Linked DNA regions of Homo sapiens. The protein of the gene in region 4 purifies or fractionates together with the protein of the main gene of each other region. This does not show direct contact. Each region holds a gene or a part of one and is shown on either strand. Other genes may lie near its edges.

Evidence for each region.
Region 1: the proteins of SLC22A17 (region 4) and TXNDC15 purify together in Homo sapiens (affinity purification with mass spectrometry; one large-scale study listed by BioGRID and IntAct). This does not show direct contact.
Region 2: the proteins of SLC22A17 (region 4) and DNAJC16 purify together in Homo sapiens (affinity purification with mass spectrometry; one large-scale study listed by BioGRID and IntAct). This does not show direct contact.
Region 3: the proteins of SLC22A17 (region 4) and NUP210 purify together in Homo sapiens (affinity purification with mass spectrometry; one large-scale study listed by BioGRID and IntAct). This does not show direct contact.
Region 5: the proteins of SLC22A17 (region 4) and SEC63 purify together in Homo sapiens (affinity purification with mass spectrometry; one large-scale study listed by BioGRID and IntAct). This does not show direct contact.
Region 6: the proteins of SLC22A17 (region 4) and MTCH1 purify together in Homo sapiens (affinity purification with mass spectrometry; one large-scale study listed by BioGRID and IntAct). This does not show direct contact.
Region 7: the proteins of SLC22A17 (region 4) and EMC8 purify together in Homo sapiens (affinity purification with mass spectrometry; one large-scale study listed by BioGRID and IntAct). This does not show direct contact.

What each region holds. Positions count from the first base shown.
Region 1 is NC_000005.10:134,876,853-134,881,214, reverse strand, and holds part of TXNDC15 (thioredoxin domain-containing protein 15 isoform 1 precursor), read right to left. Parts: intron 1-4,362. UniProt on the Homo sapiens protein: Acts as a positive regulator of ciliary hedgehog signaling. Involved in ciliogenesis.
Region 2 is NC_000001.11:15,529,507-15,533,868, reverse strand, and holds part of DNAJC16 (dnaJ homolog subfamily C member 16 isoform 1 precursor), read right to left. Parts: intron 1-4,362. UniProt on the Homo sapiens protein: Plays an important role in regulating the size of autophagosomes during the formation process.
Region 3 is NC_000003.12:13,315,735-13,319,531, forward strand, and holds the end of NUP210 (nuclear pore membrane glycoprotein 210 precursor), read right to left. Parts: intron 3,592-3,797; coding exon 3,496-3,591; intron 3,422-3,495; coding exon 3,338-3,421; intron 2,048-3,337; coding exon 1,947-2,047; 3' UTR 501-1,946; downstream 1-500. UniProt on the Homo sapiens protein: Nucleoporin essential for nuclear pore assembly and fusion, nuclear pore spacing, as well as structural integrity.
Region 4 is NC_000014.9:23,349,655-23,354,453, forward strand, and holds the start of SLC22A17 (solute carrier family 22 member 17), read right to left. Parts: upstream 3,234-4,799; 5' UTR 3,088-3,233; coding exon 2,992-3,087; intron 2,798-2,991; coding exon 2,294-2,797; intron 2,202-2,293; coding exon 2,098-2,201; intron 1-2,097. UniProt on the Homo sapiens protein: Cell surface receptor for LCN2 (24p3) that plays a key role in iron homeostasis and transport.
Region 5 is NC_000006.12:107,898,781-107,903,142, reverse strand, and holds part of SEC63 (translocation protein SEC63 homolog), read left to right. Parts: intron 1-144; coding exon 145-299; intron 300-1,625; coding exon 1,626-1,773; intron 1,774-4,362. UniProt on the Homo sapiens protein: Mediates cotranslational and post-translational transport of certain precursor polypeptides across endoplasmic reticulum (ER). Proposed to play an auxiliary role in recognition of precursors with short and apolar signal peptides.
Region 6 is NC_000006.12:36,979,167-36,983,528, forward strand, and holds part of MTCH1 (mitochondrial carrier homolog 1), read right to left. Parts: intron 2,507-4,362; coding exon 2,422-2,506; intron 1-2,421.
Region 7 is NC_000016.10:85,778,124-85,780,334, reverse strand, and holds the end of EMC8 (ER membrane protein complex subunit 8), read left to right. Parts: intron 1-467; coding exon 468-627; 3' UTR 628-1,711; downstream 1,712-2,211. UniProt on the Homo sapiens protein: Part of the endoplasmic reticulum membrane protein complex (EMC) that enables the energy-independent insertion into endoplasmic reticulum membranes of newly synthesized membrane proteins.

The DNA.
Region 1 (4,362 bases), on a different chromosome or scaffold from region 4:
TGATCAATAAAAAAATAAATAAATAAATAAATAAATAAATAAAAAGAACCTATCCAAAATGAAACACACAGGAAAAAAAAAAAGAATGGAAAGAAATTAAGAGCATCAGTGGGCCGTAGGACAATTTCAAGTGGTCTAATGTACAGTAACTGGAGTACTGGCAAGAGAAGAGAGTGGAGGAACAGAAAAATATTTGAAGAAATTATAGCCAAAAACTTTCCAAACTTGGTGAAAACTATAAATCCATAGATCTAAGAAGCTCAACAAAACCCAAACTCAATGAACTACAACAAAGCACATCACAATCAAATTGCTCAAAACCAGTGACAAAGAAAAAAATCTTTAAAGCAGCCAGAGGAAAAAAAACAAAACATCATGTAGAGAGGAACAAAGGATAACAACAGGTTTCTCACTGGAAACAAAGCAAGCAAGAGTGCGACTCCATCTCAAAAAAAAAGAAAAAAATGATTTTGGCTGGGCATGGTGGCTCACGCCTGTACTCCCAGCACTTAGGGAGACCGAGGCAGGTGGATGACTTGAGGTCAGGAGTTCCAGAACAGCCTAGCCAACATGGTGAAACCCTGTATCTACTAAAAATACAAAAAAAAAAATTAGCCTGGCATGGTAGCGGGCGCCCGTAATCCCAGCTGCTCGGGAGGCCGAGGCAAGAGAATCGCTTGAACCCAGGAGGTGGAGGTTGCAGTGACCTGAGATAGTGCCACTGCACTCCAGCCTGGGCTACAGAGCGAGACTCCATCTCAAAAAAAAAAAAAATAATAAGTGAAATAAATACTTCTTCACTTCTTCAGACATACAAAAGATAAAAGAATTCATTACCAGCGAACCCACATGACAAAAATCTTCAAGGAACTCCTTCAGGCAGAAGAAAAATGTTAACAGATGGAAATATGGATCCACATAAAGAAATAGAGAAACCAAAATGGTAACTACATGGATAAATATACACAATTCTTTCCAAAAATCTAGCTATAAAGGGGGCGAGGAAGGTAGGGTAGATTCGCTACAGGCAAGGAAGACTAAGGGAGGTTTCTATTTTGCTATTTGGAACATAGGAGCAATCTGAGGATACACAAAGCTGATGAGAAAGCAGGTAAGAAGGGGCTGGGCGCGTGGCTCACACCTGTAATCCCAGTACTTTGGGAGGCCAAGGAGGGCGGATCCCTTGAGGTCAGGAGTTCGAGACCAGCTTGGCCAACATGTTGAAATCCCGTCTGTACTAAAAATACAAAAATTAGCCAGATGTGGCGGCATGCACCGGTAATCCCAGCTACTTGGGAGGCTGAGGCAGGAGAATCACTTGAACCTGGGAGGCAGAGGCTGCAGTGAGCCGAGAATCACGCCACTGCACTCCAGCCTGGGTGACAGAGCAAGGCTCTGTATCCAAAAAAAAAAAAAAAAAGGCAGGTAAGAAGGGAGAGGTGGCAATGGAGGTTACATAGGACAGAGTTTAAGGCTTGGGCAGCAAAGTGAGTCTTTAGCAGAAGGTCAAGCACTTCTGTGACTACAATCCAGAGAAGCGGCTGGGTGCCTGGGAAGGGAGCTTTGCCAAATTGGTGGAGGGGCGGGATCACATTGGCGGTATTTCTATAGCCTTTTATTTCTATAGCCTTTGGTTAATGAGTGTGTATTGCCTGTATGATCAGAAGAAAAAACAAACACACATGTTTTCTGTGTCAGCCACAAGACAAAGCAGGAAATGAAGCCAGAGAGGCTAAGAGTCTGGAAAAGAAAGGATGCCAGGTTTGGGGTCCAACCCAACTCCCAAACACCACAGTTCTTCAGAGATTTGCTCTTGCTACCTAATCAACATTCTAGATTCCACAAGTAAATGAAGAATGCCAAAACGAAGAACCTCAGGATAAAAAAATCAGGGCACAAATTTTAATCTGGTTCTCTCTGATGACCCTCAGATAGCCCCTGCACAAAATCAAAAGGGAATGTAAGTGGTGCATGGAGCTGGTATTTTAAGTTCAAGAGTGTTGTCCCCTCCATCCCCCTGCACATTGTAAAAATATTTAAGTACACAGTACAGATTAGGAACAAAAAAATCTTATGCCTTCAGGTACCAACGTTTTCATTTAGGAATTAGGAAGAAAAGAAACACTGAATTATTCCACACGAAAATAAAAATGTCATACTATGTGACAGTCATTGAACCCTCCCTTGGTAATGTGCTTTTATTTTTTATTTTCTTTGAGACAGAGTCTTGCTCTGTTGTCCGGGCTGGAGTGCAGTGGCACGATCTCAGCTCACTGCAGCCTCCATCTCCTGGGTTCAAGCAATTCTCCTGCCTTAGCCTCCCAAATAGCTGGGATTACAGATGCGCACCACCACACCTGGCTACTTTTTTTATTTTTAGTAGAGATGGGGTTTCACCATGTTGGCCAGGCTGGTCTCAAACTTCTGGCCTCAAATGATCCAGCCACCTCGGCCTCCCAGTGTGCTGGGATTACAGGCGTGAGCCACTGCACCCGACTGGTAATGTGCCTTTTAAGAGACTGCAGTTTGAGCTATACATAAAGTGATAATTATTGCATCACTGGCAGCAAAGAAGTTGTCTGAAGGACAAGTGTGAGGGCACCATGCCAATTCTGCCAGGGAGCCCTAGCCTAGGTCAGCACCTTCACACCCTTCCAGCTTTTCTCAGAAGGCTCTTTACCAGCTGCAGGTGTTTTCACAATGGCTTCTGGCAGGAAAGGCAAATGAGGAGGGACCAAAAACAGTCAAGGGTTGGAGGGACAGCAATCCATACTTTCCATAGGCAATACTGTGTGCTCATTTAGCAAATGGAGACAATACCACCAAAATGTAGAAAATTATGAGGCTACTGTGAAGATTAAATGAGAAAAGATGTGTATGGTCCCTGCCACAGGTTAAACACTCCATAAATGGCTGTGGTGATGATGATGATTATGATGAGTGGTGTTTACAATTCAAAGAGATGGAAAGGCACAATAACTAAGTTCTATTAATTAACCTGCACACTGGGCTTGCTGGTTCATACCTGTAATCCTAACACTTTGGGAGGCCAAGGCAGGCAGATTACTTGAGGTCAGGAATTCAAGACCAGCCTGGCCAACATGGTGAAACCCCATCTCTACTAAAAAATACAAAAATTAGGCCAGGCGCAGTGGCTCACGCCTGTAATCCCAGCACTTTGGGAGGTCAAGGCGGGCAGATCACCTGAGGTCAGGAGTTCGAGACCAGCCTGGCCAACATGGCGAAACCCCATCTCTACTAAAAATACCAAAAATTAGCCGGGGTGTAGTGACGGGTGCCTGTAATCCCAGCTACTCAGGAAGCTGAGACAAGAGAATCGCTTGAACCCGGGAGGCAGAGGTTGCAATGAGCCAAGATCGCACCATTGCTCCAGCCTGAGCAACAAGAGCAAAACTCCATCTCAAAAAAAAAAAAAAAAATTAGCCAGGCATGGTGGCGCATGCCTGTAATCCCAGCTACTCGGGAGGCTGAGGCAGGAGAATCATTTGAACCCAGGAGGTGGAGGTTGCAGTGAGCCAAGATGGTGCCACTGCACTCCAGCCTGGGTGACAAGAGCAAGACTCCTTCTCAAAAAGAAAAAAAAAAATTTCACCTGCTAAACACATTCACAATCCATCTACTTTCCCCATCCCAACTAACACTTCTCAGCAAAGGCCACAGCCAATTCTTGTCTGGGCAACTACTGTAGCCACCTAAACTGGTCTCCCTGGTCAGCCTGCTATCCCCCCTCCAGACCCTGACCTTCACAGCAATACAAGTGAAACTGAAAGATAAAAGGCATATCTGATCATGTCACTCCCCTGCTAAAACTCTTTCAGTGGCTTCCCCTACCCTGTGAATGCATCTGCATTCTGTAGCAGAGCTACCAGGCCCCAATGTGGCCTCTGTCTGCACTCTCACCTGTGGCCATCAGATCCCTCTAGTCCCTGATCATTTACACTCCTCCTATCCCCACCTGCCTTAGAGCCTTCCTGAGGGCTGTTTCTCTGCTGGGAAGCTTCCTCCTGCCAAATCCTTCATCCTCCTCATTCAGATCTCACCCTAAATGTCACCTCTGTAAGGACACATTCCCTGACCCTCAGACCAGGGTGGGAGGTCTCCCATTACAGTTCCCAAAAACGCCCTGGGACTCTCCTTGATGCATTTCTCAGTCTTGCAATTTTCTTAGTAATTTGTAGTTATTTAGTGGCTGCCTTCCCCAAAGGCCTGCTGCTCTAACTCACCACTGGATCCCCAGTGCTCAGCACAGTGTTTAGCATATGATGAGTGCTCAGTAAGAATTTGCTAGCTGACTGCCTAGGGAAGAGTGGCATAGGGGTATTGAAGCCAGGAGTTTGCTTC
Region 2 (4,362 bases), on a different chromosome or scaffold from region 4:
ACGTTTCATCCCAATGCTAGAATGATATCAGGATGCTAGAATGCTGTTGTTTCTTCTGATAACACAGGTAGACATGAGAAATAGCTTTTAGGATAGACTAAATTCATTTAGTAACAATCAGGTTTCAAACTGCACTTGTGCCTGACTTTCAAATTAGAACATTTTTCGTTATTATTACGATTGCTTTTTACCTGGATAAAGATTTCAAGGCCACTGTTTTTTTTGTTTTTTTGTTTTTTTTGAGACAGGGTCTCACTCTGTTGCCCAGACTGGAATGCAGTGGTACAATCTTGGCGCACTGCAACCTCTGCCTCCCAGGCTCAAGCGATTCTCTTGCCTCAGCCTCCCGAGTAGCTGGGATTACAGGCCTGCGCCACTATCACCCGGCTAATTTTTGTATTTTTAGTAGAGATGGGGTTTCACCATGTTGGCTGGGCTGGTCTCAAACTCCTGACCTCAAATGATCCACCTGTCTCGGCCTCCAAAAGTGTTGGGAATACAGGCGTGAGCCACCACGCCCGGCCTCAATGCCACATGTTTAACATTTTTTGCCATGTTGTCCAGGCTGGTCTCAAATTCCTGGACTCATGCCATCCTCCTGCCTTGGCCTCCCAAAGTGCTGGGATTACAGGTGTGAGCTACCACACCCGGCCAGCTTTGGAGATTTTAAAGTTCTCGATAGTAAGGGCTAGGTTTAATTCCTTGAAAGCCCCTAAGACCTAAATCAGTGTTTTATATGGACTGATTTTTCAATGTTCACTTTAAGAGACTTTGTATGACAGTATTCTTTACATAATCACTTTTGGTAACTTCTAGTAAATTTCCTCTGACATAGGTTCTGGAAAGAAAAACAATTCACTGGGAAGCAAATGACTATTAACGATACACCAAGCACATTGGAATAAAAAAAAATCTACAACTTAATGGATTTATTCTAGCAGGAATGTGTTTGAATGAATTATACCACATATTCTGATTTCTCTACAAATAAGGAAACTCCAAATTGTTGACTGCTGAGTTTAAAAATCATTCCTTCCTTAACCATTTAATCCTTGCTATGAGTATTAGTGGGGGAAAAAAATCTCAGCTAGTCATAATGAAAACAGCATGACTTAAGGAAACGAGATGGAGACTCCAAAGCATTTCTGGATGACAAAAAAAAACACAAAAATACCAACAAAACCAACCCATCAACCAAACCATCAGGCTGACGACTGAGTGGATCAAAAATTATGCAATCATACAAATGAAGATTTAACATATAGAACTCTGTAGAAGAAGGGTAGGAAGGGGCTTTTTAGGAGAATGAACCAAAGAGAGAGTCTTGAGGGCAGCTAGGTTAGAAAACACAGATCCTGAAACAGAGGAGGGCAAGGCTGAAGAACAGGGAGGAAACCACAGCACTTTCAGCTGTATTCATACGGAATACTTTCCTAATTGTGGGAAGACACCACAAGGTTGAAAACATAAAAAAAAAAATTCAGCCATAGGAAAGTATTGTCCAATGCTATTTTCAGTTAATATGAAATTATTTCAGGAACTGCAATATAATACACAATCTTTAAAATTCAAAGTAGAGGAAATATTGCGTGTAGTATCTACTGGCTCTCTAGTTACCTCTTAAAGGAATAAAAACAAAGATAGAGAAGGTAATACAGCAAAGAATTACACAAAATAATTTACTGTTAGTTTATTGCATAACCACGTCACACCAATCTGCCATTCTTTGGGTGGGAGGAGTTATTTCTTTTGCTAATGTGGATAACAAACAAAAAGTACCTACGATAAAACTTAATTATTGGGAGAAAAACATAGTTTTCCTAAGGGAAAAAGTAAAGTCAAATGGTTTCACCAAGCAAAGTAAAATTCTTAAGCAGTCTAAGAAACACTTAGTAAAATGTATCAGAGGAAGGCTCCAGATCCAACTCAACAAGTAACCACTTCCCCCTGCTATAGCTCATTCTGAAAAGTCAAACTGGGAAACACTGCTATTTTCAGTGTATATCAAGCCATTAGTAAGCAAAACTTAAACTATTCCAAGTGACAAAGCATTGTCATAGCCAAAACCGCAGAAAATAATAGTAGAGCAAAATTAAAAACGTAAAGTAAAATTTTAGACTTTTACTGGATGACACACTCAATACACTTCTATGGTGATGAATTATTCCTAGAGAGAATCTAATTAAAAAAGAGAAGAATATGACTCATTTAATTAATATCATAACACCCTTTTCAGCTCTGGAAGACAGAAAAGTCAAAGCTATACATTTTAATAGGTCCCACATACTCAAGCTGTCACTTGTGTTCTTAAAATATTGTCAAAGGCTATGCCTTGTCCAAAAGAATGTTGTTACCTTATGAATTTGCTGCAGATTTATATATCCTGCTTTAAACATAAAGAGGCAAGAGTCTGAAATGATGTAGAACATAACCTTGGTATAAAGAGTCCCTGGAAGGAGGTCATGTATAATTAGAGATTGCTTCTTTGGCATCCAATTCTGGATTTCTCATGGAATATGGTCTAAAACATTTATTTTAAAAATATATTTTCAATGATCTTTACCTTTATTTCAACCAGTTTAATGCTAAAATATACCTGTTCACTGAAGCAGAACAGTGTCAGGCGCAGTCACGCATGCAGTCTGTACCATGCATCACCTCAATGTGGCAGTTTTGCTTCTGGATAACTTCCTACTCGCATTCAGCTCCTCCCCAGCCAACCATTAGCCCACTCACCCTTACTCATGCCTAGATGTGTAAATGATTAAAAAACAATAAAGCAATGGACTACTGATGCAGAGGGTCAAACTACGGAACCCAGAGGTACCACAGATTTACCAACTCTAAGCCTCCATCTTCTCATCTATAAAACAGAGACACTGGCCGAGCATGGTAGCTCACGTCTGTAATCCCAGCACTTTGGGAGGCCGAGGTGGACGGATCACTTGAGGTCAGGAGTCTGAGACCAGCCTGGCCAATATGGCAAAACCCCGTCTCTACTAGAAATACAACAATTAGCTGGGTGTGGTGGTGCACGCCTGTAGTCCCAGCTACTTGGGAGGCTGAGTCAGGAGAATCCCTTGAACCCAGGAAGCGGAGGTTACAGTGAGCCAAGATTGTGCCACTGCATTCCAGCCTGCGTGACAGAGCGAGACTCCGTCTCAAAAAAAAAAGAGATACTGATATCCTCCTTCATAGGCTCATTATAAGGTTTAAATGAGATAAAAAGTATAGAACCAGGAGATTAGCATGTAGTAGGTGCTCAGTGATGGTACCTGTCCCAAACTTTCTTCCATTCCTCATGGTTGGTACAGCCAGCTTGGAGTCACCTCTGTCCTTTCCTCCTTCTGCTGCTCCCCCTCCATCTATATAATCCAACACTTCTGCTTCTTTGGCATGGCCAAGGCATTGGTGGAAGAAACTGATGATATTTGTCCAAAGTTTTAGATTTATTGCTACCCTGCTAATTGCTATCCTGATAACTACAGGCAAAATTACAATTTTCTGTAAGTTTTTTTTTTTGAGACGGGTCTCACTCTGTTGCCCAGGCTGGAGTGCAGTGGTGTGATTATAGCTCACTTCAGCCTCAAACTTCTGGGCTTTTTTTTTTTTTCCATAGTGATGAGGTGTCACTATGTTGCCCAGGCTGGTCTCAAACTCCTGGGCTCAAACGATCCTCCCACCTCAGCCTCCCAAAGTGCTGGGATTACAAACATGAGCCACCATGCCAGGCCAATTTTTTTTTTTGAGTAATATATAGTCAGCCCTCTATATCTGTTGGTTTCACATCCATGGATTCCACCAACCAAAATATAATATTTTCTATTTTGAAATATTCAAAAATATTTTTAAAAAATTGCATTGTACTGAACATGTACAGACTTTTTTCTTGTCATTATTCCTTAAACAATAACAGTATAACAACCATTTGCACAGCAGTTACATTGTATTAGGTATTATAAGTAAGCTAGAGATGATTTAAAGTATATGAGAGGACGTGCATAGATTATATGCAAATACTATGCTATTTTATATAGGGACTTGAGCATCCAATGACTTTGGTATTTCTGGGGATCCTGGAACCAAGACCTCATGGATATCAAGAGACAACTATCCTTGGTTTCTGAATTTTTTTTTTTGGAGGCAAAAGGCTATTACTCTTAACTTTTTTTCAAAGTGTAGAAATTAATAATTTAGAGAATAGGGTTGTATAGTGTTCCTGTTTAGCAATTACACTCATAAAGTTACTTTATGAATAATGTATCATGGGAAGGGTAGCATATCCATTATTGACTATATATACATTTTTTTAAAATTAAAACTTGTTACTTTAACATTAAATATGCTAACAGTATCTAAGGC
Region 3 (3,797 bases), on a different chromosome or scaffold from region 4:
AAAACAAACGAAAAACAAAAACAAAACAAAACAAAACAAAAAAACATTTCCAGGATGCAGGAATGCACATGTAAGCATGCACAAAGACACACAGAGAAACAGAGAACGAGAGTTCACTTTTGGCCAGACTTAAGAATTCTAGAGAAAAAACAATCTATATGATGTACTATATTTTTAGTGCTAAATGGTGCTAAAAGCCTTTTCTGGCAACCATTAGAGACAGAGAGTTGCTTGGTTAGCTTGGGAGCAGAAAGCTGAACTGTGTGGCATCACCTGGTTTTGTCAATGTGCCTTCTTGGGCACACTCACTTGCTGGCAAGATCTGGCTGCGTCCAGATGCACTTGCATTTGCCAACCTGAATGTGCTTGAAAATGATGCTCACCCTTTGGGGAGAATAAAGCTCAGACCTCCAGCTCTGCCAGGCCCCAGAGTATCATAGATGGGTAAAGGGAAGAAATCATCACCATCAGACAGAAATCTCAGCAACGATCACACCCTCTTAAAAAATCACATAGAACTTTATTAAATAAACCAGTAGAAAGGCTCCTATTTACATCCAGGTTGTCAGTTTAAGCTCAAGTAATATGCAAGGCACAATTCTTCCTTTCTCCAGCTTTAGAAAAATCAACCACATGGCCCAGCCCTGAAGGACTGAAGGGAGCTTGTGCGGGATCCCGTCATCCTGGACTCTCCACACAGCGTCCACGCATGGATGGCCATGGGCATGAGTCTCTGGATCTCCCTGAGGGTAGCCCAGCCTCGGCCTGGAGCACAGGGGCCTGTGATCTGAGAATCTCAGATCCAGAATCAGGAGCTGGGAAGAGAGGACTTTTCCAAGGGTCTCCTCCCCCAGGCCCTGGGGAGTCCCTTCTGGATGGGCAGGCCCTGGGCTGGCGGCCGCCCTCCATCATTGGCCCAGGCCGGGCTCTAGGGCCTGCTGGGAAGCTGTCTGGGGCCCTGCGCCTGATGAGCTGCCATGAAAGTGGCCGCCTCTCACACTGGCAGGCGGTGGCTCAGATCTGCTGAGGTTCTGGAGTGGCACAGGAACAGGAGGAGCAAATGACACTGGGTCTTTGTGCTGAGGCAGGACACAGCGGCTTTCCGAAACACACACACAGAAAATATGACTCCTGCTGCCATCTCAAGGACATTTTCCTAAGGACAGTCCTGGTGTCCTGATGGAGTGAAAGGGATCACACGTGGGATGTCCCAGCAGGGCCTAAGCCAAGTCCATCAGATGTCTCAACGGCTTATGAAACAAAAACAGAGGACTGAAGTCTGTTCACAGTGGCCCATGGTTGGGCAGCAGCCCTGGGTGAGCTCCTGTGTTCTCCAGCCTCTCGCTCACCCAGGGCTTGGCTATCCTGGCCTCCAGGTGCTGGTTCCTGAGGCTTCCCTTGCGGCAGTGGCGCAGATACAGGGACACTCATGTCCCATTGCTCCTCAGAAGTCCTAGCAGCAGCCAGACTAGGGGCAAAGTAAGTTTTCACAGGGGGAAAAACCCCACCAAAAACCCCCTAAAGTAACTGGACAATCCTTTCCCTGAGACCACTACAGTAACATCACCCACAGACAACTTCTAAAGAGCACTTCTAACTGCTCAAAGTCTTGAGAAGGGAAAGATTTTAGCAAGGCTAGGAAAATAAAAATGCAACAGCACATTGTCCAGAAACCCTAGACAACCATGCAAAAAGGAATGAGCCAAAAAGTCTTAGCTTTGTAAGACTTGAAAGGAAAAAAACACACATTTAAAACTCCTACATAAAATGAGCTAATGGGCAGAGCCGAAACTACAGCTCTGTGTGAAGAGACGGCAGTGAAGCTGGCCTGGGGCCGGGGCACTCATCTGGAGGGGCTTGTTCCAGTGTGAATGCAGCAGGGATGTTCCATCTTGGGGGTGCACGAGGCTCGGCTGAGACCCATCCTCCGGGAACCTTCACGCGGCCTAGTGGGAGGCATAGGCTGGGCTCCACAGCCCTGAGGGAGGGCTGGCTTTGCGAGCAGGAGGCAATGCATTGGGAGATGTGGGTGATGAGGCAGCGAAATCTAGGGTGGGAAGAGAGACGATGTTAGCAGCAGAGCCAGGGAAAGCGGCGCACTCTTCAGTTACAGCCAGCATTCAGCAGGCGCCTGCCTCACCCAGGACACTCTCACAGTGATGCCCCGAGGCCTCCCCGGCCAGCAGAGGGAAGTCCACGGGCACCTGCTGAGCTGGCCTCATTCACACAGAGAGGCCTGGGATGCCACCCTAACACCCAGGAGCGCAGAGCCTTCCGGGGAGAACGTGTCTCAAGTTTCAGGACCACAGCAGCATCTGTCCAGGGGGCATGAGGCAGGGAGGCCCCGTGCATCTGAATGCAATGCAGCCTCGGGCAAGAGCGCCACAGGAACAAAGACCCCGAGGGGAGCAGCGATTCTGCAGTGCTCCGGAGACCTTGCAGAGATCCAGGTGTGGCTCCCAAAACCCAGGGAGGAGCACGCTGAGAGAGGCAGCTAGAAAGGGCAGGCACCTGCTGCCAGAGCAGCTGCAGAAGGCAGCAGAGCCGCGAGGAGGCCGAGCACCCGTGGCCTCCCCTGGGTGCCGCTTTGCAGGTAGAGAAGTCGTCAGGCAGAAGACAAGGGCGTGTGGGCTCTCCTTACCCAGGAAAGTGCTTCTACCCACACAACTGGGTCTTCTTTCAAAAAAATTCAGGGACCCCCCTGAAGCCGGTCCATGGGCCCCCATGTCAGCAGACACGAGCTCGAGGACTCTTTGTGTAGGGGAGAGAACCCTCAAATGGGAATCAGGAGACATTAAAGGGCCTTCACGTACAGCAGTACAGGCTGGGCACTGCATTGTTTGAGAGAGAAACTACATTCACACAGTGAGGTGCTCCCTGGAGCTGTGCAGGGTCACCAGGGCTTCGGGGTCACCAGAGAGACAGTTAGACCATTGAAATAAATGACTTTGCCCATTCTTCTGGGAAATTTCTCATCAGAACTACCCAGAATCCCCATCTGTGAGTCAGCTCGTCCAACCCCAGCTTAGAGCCTTCTGAGGCAGCCTCAGCAATTGGGCATCCAGTCCTAGCATGCACTCCTGCCTAGACAGAGCTCCTTGCTGCCCATACCTCCACCCAGCATGGCTCTACCTGGGGAAAGCTCTTGCTGAACCAGGACTGGCAGCCCCTCTGCCCCGACCCTCCTGGCTCCCACATCTGTCCTCTGGGCCTCAGGCTCCTTTGGCCCAGGCAAGGGCCTGTTGAGACTTAGGGTTCAGGAGCCTCGACCCCTCCCCCAGGGCTCTTCTCTTTCTCAGCAGCTCTGCCTGGTTGTGCCTGCAGGGGGGCTACTCACAGTGGGGGCTGTGTCCAGGGCTGGCTCGAGGCGTGAGGGCTGCAGGCACAGCAAGATCCCGGGGCGTGCAGACAGTGTGGTAGGCTGCAAGAGCACAGGGTTGGTTAGAGCAGGTCGGGGCAGGGGAACAGACCCAGAGATACAGGCAGCCTCCTCACCTATGATCATGACCGCTGTCCCAGCCAACAGGGCGAAGAGCGTGAAGAACATGACCTGGTAGGAATCCAGGAAGTGCTGGAAGAGGCTGGCTCCATCTGCCATCAATGGGAAGATGAGTTACCAAAACCACCAGGCCCACTGTGGCATCCCATCACGTTCCTGCCCTACTGTACGTCTACAGGGCAGTCCACAGGTCCCTCTTAGATGTAAGGATGGTGGTCTCAGAGGGCCAGGCCACCTGCTGGAGGCCCGGGCCCACAGCTGTTCTTGGTACCCTGGCACTTCTTCTCCTGGCGCAGGC
Region 4 (4,799 bases):
ACTCTTGGGCTATTGGTCAGAGATTAGGGCACTTGTCAATGGATGTGACATCACTCAACAGAGGGGATGGGATATTGCTTAGGGGATTTGGGACCATTCATCCTTAGGAACAGAGCTAATGGTCAGTGGGCCTGGAGCTTATCTTGCTCAGACTGTTCAGAGGAGATGTGGGAGGGGGGTTCATTGATATACGGAGTTGGAACTATTAACCTGTGGAGGGGAGGCCATTGGCCACTTGTGCATGAGGATACTACTGGTCAGTGAAGGTAAAGCCAATGATATTAGGGGACTGAGTAATTGATTTTTGGAGATGAGGCCATTGTTCCATGGAGGTGGGACATTGGTCTATTAATACATTAAGAATGGTCAGGCTGGGCGCAGTGGCTCACACCTGTAATCCCAGCACTTTGGGAGGCCGAGGCTGGCAGATCACGAGGTCAGGAGTTCAAGACCAGCCTGACAAATATGGTGAAACCCCATCCTTACTAAAAATACAAAAATTAGCCAGGTGTGGTGGCAGGTGCCTGTAGTCTCAGCTACTCGGGAGGCTGAGGCAGGAGAATCGCTTGAACCTGGGAGGCAGAGGTTGCAGTGAGCTGAGATTATGCCACTGCACTCCAGCCTGGGCAACAGAGCGAGACTCCATCTCAAAAAGAAAGAAAAAAGAAAAAAAAGAAAGAAAAAAGAAAGATCAGTGGGGACATAGACATGGGTGTATTAATCCATAAGGTAGGACTATTGATCAGTGGGATGAATCTATTAATCCATGGGAATAATCAGTAAGGATAAGGTCACAGACCAGGGGAGATGAGACTATTGGTAAGTGATTATGGTCACTAACTATGAGTTAGTGAAGACATGGTTACTGATTCTTGGAGGCTGGGCTATTGATCTTTGGGGATAAGACCATTGATCTATGGAGATGAAGATAGGGAGCCTCTGGTCATTGCAAAAGGGGCACCAATCCCTGGGAGTTAGGCTATTGATCTAATGGGGTGGGGCATTTTTCCATGAGGATGGGCTTATTGGTTAATGTGCTGAAGGCTACAGATTTTAGAAGACCAAATTATTGATCTTTGGGGATGAAACCATGGTTCCATAGGAATGAGGCTACTGGTCTGTGGCAATGAGGCCACTGATGCATAGGGATGGGCTATTGACCTGTGGGTTTCGGATCATTGGCCCACAGAGGTGTGTGACTATTGGGCAGTGAGGATGGGTATTGATTTTAAGGAACTGGACTATTGAATGTTGGGATGGCTTTGATCCACAGAAGTTGAGTTATTAATCCACTTGGATGGAACTGTGGATCAATGGGGCTGAGTCTAATCGGAAGTTTAGTGCAGTGAGAGCATCTGGTCAGTGGTGAAGGTGACCAGAATCAGAGATGAGATTTTTGATCTGTGGGAAGAGTTATTGGTTGCTGGGATTGGGTTGTTGATCTCTAGAGGTGAAGCTACCGACTCATGGAAACGGGGATTTCGGTGAGAGGATCTCAAAGCCCTGAGGATCCATGAGGGTATGACTGCTAATCTATGGGCTATTCCCCTACAGAGCGTTGGGTCATTTGGTGGCAGGCATGGGACTGTGGGTTACTGGGTCTGAGGATATTGTCTTTGGAGATAGTTAGTTGACTTGTAGGGGAGGGGTCGCTGGTCAGAAATGGGGTAATTTGTTTGTGAAGTTGAACTATTGATCAGTGGGAATGGAGCTGTTGGTGTTTAGGAATTAACATATTGATCTTCAGGAATGAGGTCACTGAGATGGAGCGAACAGTCCATGTGGGCTGTTAGTGGGGATGAGACTATTCTCTTTGGAGATGAGGCCATTGATTCACGGATAGGGGGCCACTAATTAGTGGGAATGGGACTAATAGTCCATAGAGGTCGAGTCATTCCCTTGCGCGGAAGAGGTAGGGAAGGGGTATTTCTTGATGGAGAGTGAAGTTGAGACATGGATAGACCATTGAATAGAAGTCCAGAGAAGACTGCAGAGTCCAGCGAATCGTCTTCGACCTCCTGTAAACGCCCGCTGCTTGGGTTAGCTTCCCTAGCACCCCCTCCTTTCTACCAGCCCTGCCCCCACGACAGCCCTCACCTGTCTGCGGGGTAACCCAGGAACAGGTAGCCGGAGGCAAAGCCCAAGATGAAGAGGATCTGCTCCAGGATCACCTGCCAGCCCAGGTCACACACCAGATCCCACTGGGGATGTGAGAAGGGTGCAGCGGGCGTGAGGCCCCGCCCTCGCCGCTCTCTGCCCGCCCCCAGACCCGCGGCCCGCCTGGCCGCCTCACCTGGCCGATGGCGTTGGTGGTGAGCACAGGAAGGCCATTATAGTCCCAATCCTTGAGGCAATGGTTGAAGTCCGGCGGGGCGAAGCCGCTGCACGAGGGGTCGGTACTGGTGGCGACACGGCTGGCGGCGCTGGCTGCTAGGGCAGCGCTGGCGACGCTGACGCCGCTGGCATTGGGAGGCTGCTCCCAGCCAGAGGCATTAGGGGGGAAGGCCCCGTAGTGGCAATGCAGCGGGGGCGCCAGCGTGAAGATGGGGTCCGAGGCCATGCCCAGAGCCACGAAGAGCACCGGCAGGCAGCAGAGGCCGAGCTGCAGCTGCTGGCCGCCGCCCAGCGCCCCCACCTGGGCGAGCAGCGCCTCAAAGCTGAGGGGGCCTGGGGGCACGGCCAGCGACAGGCTGCTGCCCAGTCCGTCGCCGCCCGCGTCTCCCTCCCCCTCCCGCTCGCGCTCCCGCTCACCCTGCAGCTGCTCCGTGGGCACCGCATCTCCGAGGGTCCCGACCTGCTGTTGGGGGGCAGGGGGTGGCAGGAGAAGGGTGAAGCGGAGGAAACCGCAGAGCAAGGGCAGGGGGCAGGTGGGAGGGAGGGCTAGGAAGGCAGTCAGGGGCGAGGGATGCGCAGGAGGAAAATGCCAGACGCTCCGCGGGGGCGGGGGTGCTGGGAGAGGATGGCGTCGCCACCTGGGGCTCGGGCACTTACTCCGTTGGAGGTGGGGGTGATCTCTACAGTGTTGTCGATTTTGCCGCCGCCCCCGCCATTGGGCTCGGGGGTCCCGGTGGCCACCCGGGGAGCCAGCTTGCCGACCGCAGGGGCCCTGCCGGCCCGCGCCGAAAGGATGCGCTGTCCTCTGGCTCAGTTGCGCGCCGGCTGCCCGGACACAGACAGCTCGAAGAGATCCCGCTCTGCAGCTCTGCAGCCGCGGGCGCCTCCTTGGTCTCTGCGATCTCTGCGCTGCTTTCCCCTCCCCTTCCTCTAGACTCTCCTCCCCTTCCCACGTCAGCAGAACCTTCGGTCCAGACTCTTCGTCAGAGAGAGGAAGGGGGGCCAGGGCCCAGGGGAGGGAGGGAAGGGGGGCTCTGTCGTCTCTTTCCTGGGTCTGCGGGCCATTGCGGTAAAAAAGAAAAAAAGCTGAAGGATAGTAGCTAGTCCAGGCAGATGCCAGAGATTCTTCCTCTGCTTCCAATCATTTGCCATCATTCATTCATTCATTCATTCACCCATTCACTAATCAGTAAAATTTAAGTGTCCACTACGTTCCAGGACTTGCACTAGACTTTAAGGATAACAGGGTGGACAAGTTCCACTTTGGAGACCTTTACTCCAGGGAGACAGACATGTAAACTGGCTATTACAGTACAACTTATGCATATGGAAGACTGTCTTGGCCCTGTATCAGCCCTAGCTTCAGTCCTCTACAAGGAGACCACTTTCTTGGGTTTCATCACTCCCATCCTGTTTGAATCTCCATTTCTCAACAGCATTTGGCACTGTTGACCCCTCTTCCTCTAAACACTCTCTTCCTTTGCTGCTGAGTCTCTCTTGCTCCCCTTTTCTCCATTGCAGAAATCGTCTTCCAGCTCATGGCATTGGTGCTGAGCATGGGCAGGCCATTATCCTCCCGGTTCTTGAGGCAATGATTGAAGTCCAGCGGGGTGACGCAACTGCAGGAGGGGTCTGTATTGGTAGTGATGAGGCTGTGGTGCTGGCTTCTAGGGCCATTCCCGTCTGTATCATTTAGACACCATGGTTCAGTGTCTGGAATCCTCACAGACTTAGTCCTAGGCCCTCCTCTCATCTCACACTGTCTCCACTTTGGGATCTTACCTATGCCCACAGCTTCAATCACCACCCATACAAACAATACAAACCTGACGCCCAGACTGACATCTCCAGCTTCCACCTCTGTTCTGAGCTCCAGACCTATGAAGCCACCTCTTATTTGACCTTCACCTTGGATGACTCACAGGGACCTCAAACTCAATATGTTCAAGACGAAATTTTTGCTTTTCCCCCATAACTTGGTTGGCTTCCACTGCTTTTTTCTGCAGCGAATGGCACCCTCAACATCGCATTGTGGCCAAATGCTCAGGCAACAGCCTTTAGAGCTTTCTCTTCCTTATCCATGTTGAATTCTTTACAAAATTCTGCCCATTTTACTTCCTATATATTCTCAGACATCCCACATCTCTCCATCTCTACCATTATTAGTCAAGCTACCTGTTGCAAAGACCACTTTAGCTCCCTAATTCCTAACTGGTGTTCAGCGTCCGCTTTGTTTATACCTCCTTATCACCCATATGTCATTTATAGTCAGATAGAATGATCTTTTCAAAATACAGATCTGATCATGTATCTTTCCTGCTAACCAGCCTTCAGTGGTGTCTCCTCACTGTCAAAGTGAATATTAAAAATCTAGATACCTCATACATGGTTCTACATGCCTGGTCACATGCTGTCTGTAGTTCCATCTCACTTCTTTCCCCAAACTCTCTGCACTCCAGCCACAG
Region 5 (4,362 bases), on a different chromosome or scaffold from region 4:
GTAACTTTTAAAGGAAAATCTTACTATGATCCTCAAATTTGAGGTGTTATGGATTTAGTGTGAATTTTGTTTTTGTGATGAATTGTATACTCCTGAACATGTAAAAAGTCCAGCCCTGTTTCTTTTTTTCCTGTTCTTTCTAAGAAAGGGAGTTTCGTGCTCCAACTTTGGCATCCCTAGAAAACTGCATGAAGCTTTCTCAGATGGCCGTTCAGGGACTTCAGCAATTTAAGTCTCCCCTTCTGCAGCTCCCTCATATTGAAGAGGACAATCTTAGACGGGTTTCTAATCATAAGAAGGTAATTCTTTGCTACTTTAAAGTCAGTTTTCAGCAGTTTGTCCTGTCACTTAAAGGTAACATGAATAAAAGTTTTCTGGAAATGGTTACTATGCATTTTTTAGATTTAGAATGTCTTAAATACTCTAAAACTTTCTCTCAGGTGGTTCTGTTAACATTTTCTTGACTAGGTAGCTGTGTTTTATAGTATTTTACTACTGTAAGTAGTTTTATTATTTTGGGGGTTGTTGCATTTAAAAAGTCAACAGTTAGTTCCTTATATTATGTTACCAAAAATAAATGTACTGTCTACTTTACAGTCATTTTATTCTTGGCTTAAGGTTGGGCAATTGTTTACTGGTTAAGCATGAACAACAAAAACATTTAATAAATCAAATAAAGACAGTTCTTATTTAGAATATATAATCTATAGTATAAACATGATAATGAATCTTAAGATATAACAAAAATTTGTGTAAATGAAAAACTTGAGGAAATATAAGAAACTGAAGTTACAATTCTAGTAGGAGATTTTAAACATTATTTTGTATATGATAGATAAAACTAGCAGAGAATAGACATTGGATTTGATAGTATATTAATGTAGAATTAATAAATGCATGTTGGAAATTAGTATCAGAGTTCTCTGTCCTTTTAAGTACTCATGTTCCCCTTATAAATTTGATTGTATGTTAAGTCATAATTAAAAACTTCAGAATCTAAAAGCAGAGATTTTACATGCCTCATGATCTAATCTGTGTCTTTGAAAGTGAAAAATAACTAGCACCAAACACCTGGAAAATTAAAGAACACGCTCCTAAGTAACCATTTTGCCAAGATGGATATTACTGTAGTAATAGCTATATTTTAAGAATAACAAAAATGAGAATATTGCATAGTAAAACTTTGAAGGTGCGTCTTTATTGAGGTTTATTTTTACTTTTATTAGGTAAAAGTAAACGTTTATTATTAAAGGTTTGTTAATAGTAAACCTATTAATTGCTAATTAAAGGTTTTTGTTATTAAAATTGAAAATAAACTGAGGACATCAATTGACAAAGTTCTTGGTTGAGTCAAGATTCTTATTTTTTCCCTCCAACTTTGTTTTTTCTAATTTAAAAAAATAAGCCTGTATTAACTTTATAATTTAAAAATTCTTAATTTAAATTTTCTTGGAGAAAAAGGTCATGAAATGCCATATCGTTATTTTGTACTTTGAAATGCACATTAATCAACACTTTTCTAAAAGTTGCTGGATTTTGTTGTGGTTAACATGTGAGTAATTTTCTTTTTATGAAAAGCTTTGTGAGTTAGGGAATTATGTATTTTCTTTTTTTTTTTTATTCAGTATAAAATTAAAACTATCCAGGATTTGGTGAGTTTAAAAGAATCAGATCGTCACACTCTACTGCACTTCCTTGAAGATGAAAAATATGAAGAGGTTATGGCTGTCCTTGGGAGTTTTCCATATGTGACCATGGATATAAAATCACAGGGTAAGTGGGAGGTTTCTCTGTTGAGCATTGCTTCCCTTTTGATAGATTGGTTCTCATTTATTTGACTCAGGATTCTCAAAACACTGTACTTAATAACATAACTTGTTATTAGACTTTGCAGAACTGTAGTTTACCTGTCAGATTTACTATGTTGGAAAATGATTTATACCTAATAGTTTGAGAACACTGATAGAGTCCTACTTTTATTATCCTCATAATGGGATGAAGTCTGAACACTCTGTTCTGTAGTTCAACTTTTAGCAATTTCTTAACTTTCCAAAGAATGATGAAGACTTCCAGGCATAATAAAAGAATGAGATATTTGAAGTATATTATTAGTATGAAAGAAATAGCTGCCTAGTTCTAAAATTAAATTTTTAAAACCCAACTTATTTATGTTAATTAAATGTTGAAAATTACTGTGTTTTATGCCACATTTCATGTGTTTTTCTTGCCCTACCTCTATATTTTCTTTGAGGGAAAAAAATAAAGGCTATTTTTCTACCTATATAATTGCTCTGTGTTTCTATTTCAATATCTGAATGGTCTTAGAATACTGAGAGAATTAGAGACTATCTGCTCCATTCTTTCATTGTGGTGGTGGTCTGAGCTTTAACATTTGCTAAGTTACTATTATGAGAACATTCTTTTAGTTACCAAGAATACAGGGATATATTAATAATGGTTTCTGTCTTTATTTTATTTATTTATAAATAATTTTTGAGACAGGGTCTCACTCTGTCGTCCAGGCTGGAGTGCAGTGGTGCGATTTTGGCTCACTGCGTCCTCTGCCTCCCGGGCTCAAGCAATCCTTCTACCTCAGCCTCCTGAGTAGCTGGGACTACAGGTGCACACTACCATACCTGGCTAATTTTATTTTTTGTAATTTTAGTAGAGACAGCGTTTCACCATGTTGCCCAGGCTGGTCACGAGCTTCTGGGCTCAACTGCTCCACCTGCCTTGGCCTCCCGCAGTGCTGTGATTATAGGTGTGAGCCACCGTGCCTGGTTTGTGTCTTTAAAGAGAGCTTATTGTCTAGTTGAAGCAATAGGCTTAAAAATAAGATAAGGGCTGGGCCCAGTGGTGTCATGCCTTTAATCCCAACACTTTGGGAGGCCAAGGCAGGGGGATCACTTGAACCCAGGAGTTCGAGACCAGCCTGGGCAACATAGTGAGACCCTGTCTTTATAAAATTAAAAAAAAAACACACACACACCAAGATAACATATGCTAAGTGTTAACGTGAATGACACAGACATTGTACCATTTATTTATACAGCAAATATTGAATGCTGTGCACTCCTCTAGGTGCTAGGGAAGCAGTGGTAAGACATACCCTCTGCTTATTGAGCTTGTATTCTAATAGGAATTCTAATTGGGAAAGGAAGGCAAACAGTGCAATCTGGTTTCAGTTTGGCTGGAGTGTAGCATATGTGTTGTGAAAACTTGGTTTGCTTTGGTGAGGAGTTGGGGTTGCCTTGTGGGGCCATGAGTTTTCAGACTTTAAAAATACTAATTTAAAAGCTGTATTTAGGACTGTGCTGATTTAATAAAACTGTCCAAATAAAAATTTTGGGACTTAGAGATACTTTGTGATATTAAGAACTGTTAAAAGTATACCCTTTTCTTTTCTTTTCTTTTCTTTTTTTTTTTGAGACAGTCTTGCTCTGTTGCCCAGGCTGAAGTGCAGTGGCACTATCTGGGCTTACTGCAACCTCCAACTCTAGGTTCAAGTGATTCTCCTGCCTCAGCCCTCCCAAGTAGCTGGGATTACAGGCGTGTGCCACCACCATGCCCAGCTAATTTTTGTATTTTTAGTAGAGACGGAGTTTCACCATGTTGGCCAGGCTGGTCTCGAACTCCCAGCCTCAGGTGATTCACCCACCTCAGCCTCCCAGAGTGCTGGGATTATAGGCGTGAGCCACCATGCCTGGCCAAAAGTACATGCTTCTTAGAAAAATGAATATTAGAAGAGATTTTCTTATAGAAAGTAGAAATTTAAGAGTGTTCGGCCTCACTGACAAATATTACCATGGATCCACTCCATAGCATCTTGGATAGACAGTTTATTTATATTTTTACAGTGCTGCCTAATTATGTAATAATAGTGCTATAGTTGGTGAAGGAGGAGTAGAAGAAATATAGAAGCAGGAAAGGGGCATCTGCATGATAATAATGCTGGAGATGGTGGATCTCCTTCCCTACCTTGCTAGAATCTGTAATAGAATCTCCTGTAGTCCTTTTCTTCACTTTAAAGCACCAAACAGCAGGTCAGCATTCATGTAGTTATTTCACATGACCTGCTTGTGCACATACAGCTGTGCAAAATGAAAAATGTAGATGAATATGTGGCCCAGATTTGATTTTTGATAATGGAGACTTCCAGGGTGAAGAAGGGATACCATACCCTTTGTTGATACCCAGCTGCTGCACCTTGTAGCGGGTAATGGAGATAGCAATTGCAGATTATTGGAGGCCATTCTTTTCAACTGATGGTATGTTAGTAAATGCCAGACCAGTATGAAAAGTAAACATAACAAACTTAAAACTGTAGGTAAAAACATGTAAGAAGAACTATCTTACATATAA
Region 6 (4,362 bases), on a different chromosome or scaffold from region 4:
TACACCCAGGATACCACCTGGCACCAGATGGCATTGATTAGTCAAGGGAAAAACAAGTCTATGGAGAAGTAACTAAAACAGGAGCACCAATGAACAATTCCATAGAATAAACTTAAATGTTATGGAAGCTAGACCCTACCTGTGTGAGTTAGTGTTTCTTTCACTAGGGTCTGTCTTTCTAAGGATACGATTCATTGTTTTCTATCAACATTTTAAACATGTTTTAAATGGCAGGGTGGTATTTTTATAAACCTGTGCATCTGGAAGCTAGCAGAACATTCTCTCAGACAGCATGCTCCCCCTGTTAGACCATGACTTTAGCTCTCTGGCACCGCGCAGAGGCAGGAAGAAGCAAATATGCCTTTTGCTCCTCCGCAGATGTCTGCCAGCCCAGCAATTCAATGTCACAGCTAGCATGGGTTTTTCATGAGGCTGAGAACACCTGTTACCTGTATATGTGATTGCCTGAGATGAGGGTGGGCTGGAAGGAGAGGAGGAGGAGGGGAGGGGATGCTGGGTGACTTGGCAAGGAGCCCTCTTCACAGAGTGAACAGGCAAAAGGAAAATTTGCTTTGGGGGAGGGTGGATCCTAGTGAGGAGAGGGAGCCTCAGGACCTCTGTTTGTGATCCTGAGCAAAACATCGACCCTCTTCCATCTGCCCACCTGTAAAAAAAGAAGGAATAAGGACCGTCATTTCTCTCCATTTCTGAGAGAACTGAGGAACAAGTGAGAGCGGAGGGAGGCGTGCTGAAATGCCTGCAGGGGCCTCTGTGGGTCCCAGGGCCTCCCTCATTCTGGGTCTTTCTGCAGTGCCAGGAAACCCTCTGGGAAGTTCTTTCTTCTACACCAGAGAATGTCATGACAGCTGCAGTACTTTCAGCCATGACAAGTAGAGGAGCAGACACTGTCCACACTGTACCAGAGAGCCAAATGGCGGGTCCCCTCTCTGACTCCAGAGTAGGCCTGGTGTCCAGAGATCCCCAACAGACATCTGCTCACACCTAGATTAAAGCTACATTTATATAAACCAGGCTGGGGGCACACCTGAGAACTCTGCTCATCCTCAAAAGAGACAGTTAAGATGGGGGTCAAGTTCCCTCTGCTCTAAGTCCTTTTGGGAATGGCTGTGTCACATGAATAGAGATGATCTGGGCTCTAACCTCGCCTCTCAGAACACAGCACGTGCAACCAGATCCAGAAAAAGCCCCGTGCAGGGCCGCAGCCATCTGCCCCGGCTGCCTTACCTCTCTGTATACTGCCTCACTACACAATGGTGGGGTGCCTTCCTACTTCTGTCATTCCCCTCTCCACTACGCTGACAATTTTTAAGTAAAAAACAACACAAACACATTTCCTCACAAGATGACACATTCCACCTGGCCCTAGACTCTGCACTCAACAACACAGGGACAAAACTGGAAGAGAAATATGACACCCAATTCTGCCAACAGCATGTGAAATGGAAAAGGTAAGACAGAGGCCAAGCCCCAAGTTACTCAACAGAAAGATAGATTCTGGAGAATATTCTAGACAACCAAACAGGTAAGAGCAGAGGTGCAGGAAACTGGAGGGGATTTGCCTGCAATGGAACTCCAGCTGTGAACACGGAGAAAAAGGGCACATTTAAAGAAGGCCTTCATCATGGTCATCTGGTGAGGGTAGGGACTGGGAGAGGGACAGTGAGGGTGAACATGAAAAGGCCCTGGCCAGACGGCACCTGTGGGCCAGGTGATGGGCAGCAGAGGCAGCAAGGTGGGCTTCTTGATGACAGTTGGGGAGCTTGCAGGAAGGCCTGGGCAGGAGAAGCTGACCTTACTTTGCAGACAAGGGGTGCAGCCAGGCCACAGCAGGTAAGTGGCCCACCCAAACTCACGCAGCACACAGAAGTGAAGCTGCAATTCACTGCACACCATTCTGTAACCAACAGATGGAGACACCAGAGTGAGTGAGCACCACTCACTGCCTGAGGAATGCAGGGGAAACAAGACACCCAGGTGGGATAAAAGAAAAAAACTCAAGAGGACCCCCCGGGCCTCCTGCTGGAGTAGCAGGGCCAGGCTGCTCACAGGACAAAAGGAAATCACCCCCACGCATGTTCCAGGCACAACCCGGGGCAGCAGAAATAATAGGGACCAGTGTCCTAGATTGGCTCCTCTCTCAGGCACCTGTGTCTGTCCCCTCCTGCTGTCTGGGCTGGCAGCTGGCAGCTACAGGCAGAGGAGCTGGACCAAAGCTGTATGGTTCACCTGCTCGCACCCCGACACCATGTCCTCTCTGTACACGCTTAGATCCCCTCCTCCATGCCAGCTCGACTGCGTGCCATGCTGCGCAGTGAGTTCCCCGGGGCCAGCTGGTCCTGCTCCCCACCTGAGGCCTCTTTTCTGTTGGTGTGGGCTTTCCTGCTTGGGAGGCACACTCACCGTAGGTGAAGAAGCTCGGCAGATAGAGGACCTTCCTCCCCAGCACATTGGTCCCAAGGGTGGGGGGCATCGGCTCATGACCCACCTTCAGAATTAACAAAGACAAAGGGACGCTCAGAGTCTCGTGGTGATTCAGCCTCACCACCTCTCCTCACACCTCTTGCCCCCTTTGCTTAACTCTTCTCCCACAAATTCTAATGTGGCTCTTGTTCATGTTTTCCCCATCAAAGCATACCAGAAAGCTCGTCAGTGTCTCTAACCATTGGCAGCACGTAAACTCCCAATCAACAGAAATGCCTGGTCCCAGACACTGTCCAACCACAATCCAAGTCACACCCACACCCCAACATTCTTACATTCAAATCCCAAATATTCCCAGTAGAGAAACCTCCATTTGTATGTACTGCAAACCCTACTCCCATCTCAGAACAAATCTCAGTTATTCTCATCTCCAGATGAAAAACTTCATTCCAACCTCAATTCCAAATGTGGCAATAAGAAAATACATCATACCCAAACCTCAGACAGGTCAGCCATTAAGTCATCTATTCCAAAGTGCACCCCAAACTCAAATTTCTTACCAAATCTACTGCAGACACCTCCATGTCTATTCCTCCCATTCCCAGGCTTAGCAAACTGTTACCTCAAATTCCAGCTACTCCTCAAACATATCCTTAGCTGCGTTCTCACCTCAATCACCCTACATCCCTGTGACAAAACGACCCCCTCATTTCTGTAGGGCTATGATAGTTCTTGCTGTACAGATGCTTCTTATATCTGAAATATTTATTTATTTATTTTTTTTTTTGAGATGGAGTTTCACTCTTGTTGCCCAGGATGGAGTGCAATGGCGTGCTCTCAGCTCACCGCAACCTCCACCTCCTCCACCTCCCGGGTTCAAGTGATTCTCCTACCCCAGCCTCCCAAGTAGCTGGGAATACAAGCACCCGCCACCATACCCGGCAAATTTTTTGTATTTTTAGTAGAGACGGGGTTTCTCCATGTTGGTCAGGCTGGTCTCGAACTCCCGACCTCAGGTGATCCACCCGCCTCGGCCTCCCAAAGTGCTGGGATTACAGGCATGAGCCACTGCGCCCAGCCTGAAATATTTATTAAACCCGCGGGTGGGTGAAGGACCATCCATATCCATGTGAGGAGCAGGAAGTCTCTGTCGAGGGGTGAGAGCCCCTGCTGCCAGGGAGGAGGCAAGGTGTCAAGGAGACCAGCACCTAGGTGGGGAGTGAGAAGGCTCCTTCCTCCCTTGGCAAGGGGCCAGGATACCAGCCCTGTGCCCTCTAAGCAGGCCAGCTGGGCCCATGGACCAGAGCGATTCCTCTGACATGTGGGAGAGGATTTGGCCTGCAGCTGTGGGAGGCAGTAGAAGTGGCAAGTTAGAAAGCGCTACCTTGTAAACTGGATTAGGTATGCTTCCAGTGCTTTTTGGGATCAACCCTGTCCCCTTTTGCCTTTATCAAGCAAGTGCTTTTCAAAGTTCAGGCTATCTCCTATGGATCTGATTCTGAGATGCCTAACAGATTAATGATTGTAAATTTAAAAACTCCTCTATGATGGGGACTGTCTTTAAAAGAAAAAAATTTTGACCCAGTGGAGCAAAGGAGGAAAGGGGTGAGTCAGCTGACCCAGGCAGTGAGTACTTCCCTTCTAGACCTTTTCCCTTCTGGGTTAAAAGCTCCAAGGTTGTTCTGAATTAAGTTTTGTCTTGATCTGTGTTCTCTTAAATACAGGTGGTATTCCTTTATTCCTCCACTCCAAATCGCCACAACTGCTCTTTTGCTGTCCTTATCCAGTTTAGTCAACACTATTTGGGAGTCCCACTGACCCCAATTTCATACTTAAATTTGTAACGTTATCCCATATCCCCATGGCTCCCAAATCTGTTGAATCTATTTTCTTAACTTCTATTGGGTTATCATAGGCACA
Region 7 (2,211 bases), on a different chromosome or scaffold from region 4:
CCCGGCCACGTGAGAGCCACTCTCACCCCGCCTGTGTTTTCAGTTAGCGTTTTCTCCAGAAGCATGATACCAAGCATATTCCCCGGCTCCTGTAGGCCCCAGTGTTCCAGCGCTTCCAGGCAGTAGAGGGAACCTCAGTGGTACCCACAGGTCTTCCCACCCCAGGCGCTAGAGCACAGACACTCTTCCCAGGCCTGTGCTTTGATGTATCTGTGGCCACTCAGAAAGCTTCAGTCATCTGCCTCCAACTTTCTCAGAATTCCACGTGAAAGGCGTCCCTTCCATGTATTAACCATGTCTTCTATGCTCTGTATACCTCTTCATGCGTTTGAAATGCACATGTTTCTCAGTACTCTGCACCATCTCTGTTCATACCACTGTGCATGTGGCTGGCCTTCTCTCTTGATGCTGTTACAAGCCGCCCGTTTTCACTGTTAGATGCTGACTTCTTCATGTTTGACCCGTAGTGACTACTGTGAAGACTGGCCAGAGGCACAGAGGATCTCAGCCTCGCTCCTGGACAGCCGGTCCTACGAGACGCTCGTGGATTTCGATAACCACCTGGATGACATTCGGAATGACTGGACAAACCCAGAGATCAATAAAGCTGTCCTACACTTGTGCTAGGCAGGCACCGCTGTGACTGGGCTCCGGGCCTTTCCACTACGTTGAAGAAGAAAACCTATTTTTAAATGTAAATAAAATATCTTGTAGCCTGTGTGGAAAGCTGACCGTTTTAAGAAGTGGCATGTGCCTTGAAAGGGGGCAGAATGTTCAGTCGGTCGTGTTTTTAACACAGAGTCTCTAGAAGAGGTGCAGACATCCCGTCTGACTGTCCCTGTGGACTCTCTCAGTTGTATGTTGCTATAATCCTCCAAATCAAAGCTCTTTCTGCTTGTGCAAGATTGTTCCTATTAAACAGTTTTAACTAACCTTTTATAATCTGGAGAGAATACTTTTTAAGGCTTTTGAACTATCTTTTTTTAAAAAAAAAAAAAAAAGCCCACATCTTATACTCCAATGAGTGTGTTTGTGAGTTTTTATCCTGTTTGAATTTTGATGTCGTCCAGGCGTCCTGGGATCAGGGTAGACACGTGGAGTGCTGGTGCTGAGCTGTTTGAGAAGCTCTGTGTGGGTGTTTCTGTGGTCAGGTAGGCTGGGCTGTGAACAGCACTGCTCCACATGGTGTCGGCTCACAGAGCCACCGCAACTCTGCCCAGCGGGAGTGACACCACTGATGCCACAGAAGCCTTTATCGTTAGGGGCAAAAGCAGACATCTCTGGTAGCAGGAGCTCAGTGTGGTGCTCTTCAGCCACGCAGAAAGCTCACGTGCCTGCAGGGCCAGGAAAGGGAAATGATCGTTTCTTTTGTATTAGGAAAAACAAGACTTAGACTTCCCGAGTTGTGCAGAGTGACGTCTGTACTTTTTATACTTAGAACATTTGGTCAAGTTTTGTAACCAAACCTTAGGGAATTGAGAGGGAAACTTTATGGTACGTTTACCTTTTTTCCTTTTTATATGAATTATTTTGTACAAAGTTCAGAGAGCGGTACCTTTCCTACTGTCTTTTCTTTGACTCCATGGAGGAATTTGTAACGATCGGTGTGACCTGAAAGGGTTTGTGATACAGCGGTCACTATTTTCTCTTAACACATAGGAAAAAAGTTCAGACATCGCTACAATAAATGTGCTTTATTTGATCCACCAAATTCTCTCTTCCCCTTTCTTCAAATACCTCTTACTCTTGATTTTTTAAACTGGCGTTCTTTCACGTGGGGAGCACAGGAAAGCGTGAGGTGTCTGTGCAGCCCCTTCTCTCCCCTGCCCTTGGATGCCAAAGCATCACAGCTGGAGCGAGGTGGGCAGTCTTGTTCCGAATGGGCTTGGGTTTGTTTCATAAAGGGAGAAGAATCACCTCCAGCATTTGCACGTAAGAAGCTGTTTTGTCCTGAGACTGAAACAGCAGCGTAGGCCCCTCCAGTTAGAAGTCCAGGGCAGCTGGCAGAGCTACTTGGAATGAAGGTTGGTGAAGGCTCGTTTGGGAGGCATTTTAACGACACAGCCCTCCTAAAACCCTTCAAGGTGGCTTTCCCTCTGCCACCTCCCTGTGGAATTCTTTTCCTTGGTTCTCCTCCTGCCTCCCAGGAGCATGTGCTGTCCTAAAACCCTTCAGGGTGGTTTTCCCTCTGTGTCACCTCCCCGTGGTATT